Linked DNA regions of Homo sapiens: region 2 is linked to region 1. The links come from fine-mapping of genetic effects on gene expression. A gene starts in region 1. The other region holds a variant in brackets. All regions are shown on one strand. Distances are between the middles of the regions.

Region 1 (2,901 bases):
TGGCCAGATCGAGCGGAGAAATGGTGTGTTGTCCTTGAATCGAGTAGGCATCTAGAGGTGGTCCCTCCAGGTCATGGGTGGCATGGGGGTAGCCCGCAGCGTCGCTGCACCGATCTTGGCCGCCCGCGCAGATGACTGGGGAGCTGGCCGGCATGGGCTGGTACGGAATGGTCATGACTCTCCCTTGCGGAGACTGGGAGAGCGTCTCCAGCATGACCAGGCAAATCTGCTTGACACACTCGGTGACAGACTGCGGCACGCCAGCGATGGTGATGGCCCGCTCGGTGGAGTTGGGCAGCATATCCCCCGCCACCTGGACCTGCGCCCCCGTACTCTCGCGGATCTCTTTGATCTTACACCCGCCTTTCCCAATCAGGGAGCCGCACTGGGTGGCCGGCACCACCAGCCTCAGGGTGACCGGGGGCCTGCTGGCCGCGGTACTGTTGGTCATGGAGCTGTTGATATCTTCCTCCAGCTTGTCGATGATCATAGCGAAAGCCTTAAAGATGGCATTGGTGGGGCCGGTCAGAGTGATGATTCTCTCCGGACAATTCCCCTCCGAGATGTTGATCCGCGCGCCACTCTCCTCGCGGATCCTCTTAACCGACTCCCCTTTCTTCCCAATGATGCTTCCTACTTCCTTTCCGTGCATAAGAAGCCGAATGGTGAGAGTCACATTTAGTCCACTTTCAGTCACACCGGCATCCATGGCGAGCGGCGGGCGGCGTTCGGGGGAGTTGGGCTCGTTACGTGGTCAAGTCTTTGGCGGCTGGCGGGGGGAGGGGAGGTGTAGGCCCAAAACTGCCGGCGCGAGGCGAGCGAGGGCCGCGGGAGCGAGCGGGAGCGGGCGGGAGGCCGCAGCGTAGTCGCAGGGGCGGGCGGCGGCGGCGGAGGGGGCGAGCGGGGCCGGGAGCGGCGGGCGGGCGGGTGGGCGAGGGCGCGGCGGTGGCGACTCCGGCGGCAGCCTCGGCGGTCTGGGCGGGGCGGGAAGCCCGCTTTCAACCCCGCGTACCCTCTGACCCCGGAAGTGCTTGCTGCGCAGGACCCCTTGAAAAAAAATGAGGACCCGTCTTTTTTAGGTCACAAGATTGCGCCAACCCTTACATGGTCCTTAAAAAAAAAACCTTCTGACACTGCAGTAGTGAAAATGAAGCGCACGATGGGCGGAAGCTGTGAGTCCGGCAAAGTTTTAAAATGATGACGTATTTTATTAACTCTAACGGCACTGGCGGGTGACTGAAAATACTAGTGCTGTGTATGCGGGATAGACATTATTTTCCTGCCCTACATGAGGGGCTCGTGCGCGGAACGACATGGGCAGCCCCGGCGGAAACTGCAGGCACAAGCCGGGACGCCGCGGGTTTAAAACATGCGCGTGAGGTGACCAGAGCGCGTGCGCGAGGGTGTGGGGGGATGGGAGGGGCAGCAGCCCTCTTCCGGGGGGGAGGGGCGGCGAGGCGAGGCCTGCGGAGCGGGTGCGCGCGGGCGGGCACGTGGGGCCCTTTCGTCCCCGGCGTCCGGGCGCCCTGCATGGATCCCCCACCCCAGCTCCTGCTCCCCGGCGGCGGCCGGTGGGCAGAAAGACCGAAACCCACTCACGGCCGCCTGCCGAATCGCGGCTCTGCTGTTTGTGGGGCGTGCTAGAAACGTGGTCCTAAAAAGAATGGCGTCCATTTACATAATGCTTTGTTTGCGTTTCGCAAGTTTCTTTCGGTTAAAGCCACAGAAACCCCACCTCCTGCCCTTGTGTCGTTTCCACCGCGGCACCCTTTTCCGACATTAGAAACAATAGTGTACGCCTGTGGAGGCCTCGTTTGTTCAGGGGCTGCCGGCCAGGGCTTCAGGACGTTTCTGCGGCTTTCCCCGCGCGGCCTGGGCTCCCGCGGCTGCTTTTCGGGCCCATGGGCGCAGCCACTGCGCCAGGCTCAAGGGGGGCGGCCCCGTCAGGGCCCGCCATCTTGGAAGGCCTTTTTTGCCGGTTCTTCCCGCTGAGGAAGTGTCGCTCAAGACGCTGGCCTATGAGTTGTGATTTCTGCCTTTTCCCCTTCCTCCTTGGGCTAAGCCAGACCAGAAAGGGCCCCGTGCGCAACGTGCTTCACAATCTCTCAGGGAAAGCGGCTAACGTGGCGCTACTCCGCCTCCCCTGTTCCTTACCCTTGGGGCGGCCGCCATGTTTCCTGAACACAAAATGGCGACACGTGGTTAGCATTCGTCGCCAACGAGAAATTGGGGTCGGCCCGAAAGCTCTAGAATGCACCCCTCTTCCTCCCCGGGGCCTTCCACCTCCGCGAGTTTTATGACTTAAAAAAGCCCACAGGCTGGTCTGAAGGTCGGAGGCCTAATTTTAACGCGTTTTCCTCCCTTTAATTTGAAACGGGAACGCGAATGACTGTAAAATGTGGGCACAATATTTAATCTCTCGCCTTTTTAAAGCTTAATAGTGGATAATAGGGGGGCAGTATCAAGGGATAATTTGGGTCCCCACAGTACCAAAGCATTTAGAAACCTCTGTTTAATTTAAGGAATGAGATAAGTTACTGCTTTTCTAGACTTCCTAGCATGGGCTGTTGTGCTGGAGAGAACGAGAGCTACGAAGAGACTACAGTGCCTCTGACTTTTTCATAGGACAGTTGGCCGGTGAATCTTATTAATAGTTTACCACAATTAAGTGTTCATTTTTAGTCTAGAAGGGACAGGCGTTTATTGTGCATTGGCCAGTGCCAGCACATCCGATGCAAGGCAGTTCACCGTATTCTATCTTTAATTTTTACCATGGTCCTCTGAGGTAGGTGTTCTTATCTCTCTCTCTCTCTCTCTCTTTTAAACAGAGGAAGACAAACATAAAGATGAAGTGCTTAATTCAAGGTCACACAATGTCGGGGATGGACCTCCAGATTTCCT
Region 2 (2,901 bases), 120 kb after region 1:
AGGAGGATCACGAGGTCAAGAGTTGGAGACCAGCCTGACCAACATAGTGAAACTCCATGTCTACTAAAAATACAAAAAATTAGCCAGGCGTGGTGGTGGGCGCCTATAATCTCAGCGACTGGGGAGGCTGAGGCAGGAGAATCTCTTGAACCCGGGAGGCGGAGGTTGCAGTGAGCCGAGATCGCGCCACTGCACTCCAGCCTGGGTGACAGTGTGAGACTCCGTCTCAAAAAAAAAAAATGGTAAAGAAAACCTAGAAGACAGCAACCGAATCACAGCCATGAAAGCAAGAGGGTCGAGTGTAACCAGGTGCAGTACTGGCTAAGCCCCATGGTACGGATTGCTTGAATAATCTCCCAGGACAATCCTAGGAGGAAACCAAGGCTTGAAAGAATTAAGTCATTTGTCCACAGCTTGCAGCCAGTTAGTGGCTGAGTCAGGAGTTGAATTTAGGCAGCCTGGCCCTCTTGACAAGGCCAAAGACTGCGCAGAGGCACCTTTCTCCTCAGCAAAGCTCCCCCAGATGATGCAAGTTCAAATGCTCCAGGACGGAGATTGGCAGGGCTGGCTTGGCTACATGTCAAGGGCTTGTGGGCATCCTAAGGCTGGCAAAGCCGCCTCACATCTCCGGCCTCCCCAAACATTCTTGCACCTGATGCTCTTAGCACCCCGCACTGTCTGTTGAATCTAATTATAATGAATCTAGACTTGCATTTTTAAATATCTTTGTTATTTTACCTTCAGATAATTCATTCTTATTGTGTTTTTAAATAGTAAAGTATGTGACAGATTGGAAATTTACAAAACGATCCTGCGCCTTAGAACATTTGAGAGGCAGGGTCCTAACGTTCTATTCTAATCACATTGATCCCTTGCTGGGAGCCCTTAGTCATCCCTGCTGGCTATAGCAGTTTTCCAAATGGTGGGTGGGGATCAATTAGTGGGTTGGGAGATTAGTTTTCAGTGTCATTAAAAGAGTTAAAAAAGAAGTGGCCCCAAATAGAAAATATCAGAGTATATTACACATAGTAAATACATTTTGTTTTAGCTACATATATCTTCATGGATATGTGTACTGGATTATGATGAAAAATGTCTTTCTTACTATGAGTACAGTAAAAAAAAGCAACTTTTTTTTTT[TG/G]AGGCAGAGTCTTACTCTGTCACCCAAGCTGGAGTCCAGTGACATGATCTCAGCTCACTGCAACCTCCACCTCCCAGGTTCAAGCAATTCTCCTGCCTCAGCCTCCCAAGTAGCTGGGATTGCAGGTGCCCACCACCACACTTGGCAAATTTTTGTATTTTTAGTAGAGACAGGGTTTCACCATGTTGGCCAGGCTGGTCTCGAACTCCTGACCTCAGGTGATCTGCCCGCCTCGGCCTTCCAAAGTGTTGGGATTACAGGCATGAGCCACTGTGCCCGGCCAAAAAAAGGCAACTTTGAATGCTGCTCATCTGCAGTTAAAGAGCACTGCCAGGCCTGATATTCAAAGCCATCGAGGCAGAAGCAATTGCTGAGGAAGATCAGGCAATGCTTCATGGGAAAAAGGTGAGGACAGCCTGGGCTGGAGGATGTGCAGGTTGTGGATGAGACCAAAGGCCAAGAAACACCGGGACTTTCATGTTTAGACTGTACCAGTGCTGCAACTCAGAGAGGAGCTGGGCCTGGCAGTCCCTTATGATAGCACCTTAGAGGAGGGAGACCCTGAGTTTGCTAGGGAAATCAAAGGAGACTTCCTGGAGGTGGTAGTGTCTTAGTTGACTTCTCAGTGTTTGCCAGGAGAACAGGGGTGTCAGAGGGCTCATCTGGCTGAGTGGCTTGTGAAAAGGTATGAGAAAGCCCGTCCTGTTTGGGGAGCTACACGCCATTTTGTATAGGTAGAGCATGAACTAGGGAGGGGGACTTCGTGAGTCTTGTTGGGTGTCAAGATTTTATTTTGGGATGAAGAGCCATGGAGGAATTTTGAGCAGAATGGCATGAGCAGACTTACATCTTTGGAAGATGACTCTGGTGGCCTGAGGAGGGTGGATTAATGGAGAGGAGGCAGGAGGCAAGGAGTCCTGTAGGATGACTACCGACCTCAGCAGGGTGCCCTGAGGCCAGGGTGTGAAGAGGCATGGAGGCAGGAGAGAGACTCAGGAGGAGGAGCTGAGGGCACTGGCGACCCAGCAGTCCAGGTGGGGCCGTGAGAAAGGGGTGGAGGTGAGGAAGCCCCCTGTGTCTGTGACTCCGAGGGCTGGCTAGATAGTAGTGCCATTGCCAGATAAAGAACACAGAGAGCCAGGTGTGGTGGCTCATGCCTGTAATCCTGGCACTTTGGGAGGCCAAGGCGGGAGGATTGCTTGAGCCCAGGAGTTAGAGACCAGCCTGGGCAATGTAGGGAGACCCTGTCTTTACCAAAAAAAAAAAAAAATTTAAGAGAATTAGGCAGATGTGGTGGTGTGCACCTCTGATCCCCTCTAAGGTGGAACTGGAGCTGAGGTGGGAGGATTGCTTCAGCCCGGGAGGTCAAGGCTTCAGGGAGCCATGGCATTTCAGCCTAGGTGACGAAACAAACAAAAAACACAGGAGGCAGAGGGTGTCTGGTGAGAAGACAGCATGTTCACTGTTGAAAGTGGACTCGTAGGCAGACATGTAAGGTGGGCAGCTGGGGCAGTGGGGAGAGGATGGGTAAGCGGTGCAGAGAGGGGTGTCCCTGGCCTGGAGAGTGTGTGGAATGAGGGGGAATGGCCTGTAGACAGAGCCTCAGGGAGCCACATCTGTGAGTATCCAGGGAGAGAGGAACCCACAAAGGACAGAGGGGAGTGGTCGTAGTGGCAGAAGACCCAGAAACTTGGGATACAGAAACCAAAGGCGCAGAGAAGACCTAGGAGGAAAACAGCAGTGCGAGGGCTTCAGAAGGC

What was found. PIP is the estimated chance that this variant, and not a neighbour inherited with it, causes the effect.
Region 2: its variant is fine-mapped to the expression of PCBP1 in whole blood (TOPMed, PIP 0.98).

Annotation. Positions count from the first base shown.
Region 1 is chr2:70,085,552-70,088,452 of GRCh38, reverse strand. PCBP1 (poly(rC) binding protein 1) reads right to left here and starts at 976. Exons shown (of 1, transcript NM_006196.4): 1 at 1-976. The coding sequence starts at 709. It overlaps PCBP1-AS1 (PCBP1 antisense RNA 1), which reads left to right and starts at 1,438. Exons shown (of 11, transcript NR_033872.1): 1 at 1,438-1,475; 2 at 2,829-2,901. It also overlaps a transcript of ASPRV1 not described here. RefSeq lists enhancers at 1-554, 1,760-1,969, 2,010-2,099, 2,240-2,379 and silencers at 890-949, 1,400-1,549.
Region 2 is chr2:69,969,407-69,972,307 of GRCh38, reverse strand. All of the region lies in intron 9 of PCBP1-AS1 (PCBP1 antisense RNA 1), which reads left to right. It also overlaps a transcript of ASPRV1 not described here. Among named protein-coding and RNA genes, the nearest start is that of ASPRV1, 9.2 kb to the right of the region's middle. RefSeq lists an enhancer at 1-155. The variant TG/G (reference allele first, on the strand shown) is at 1,141.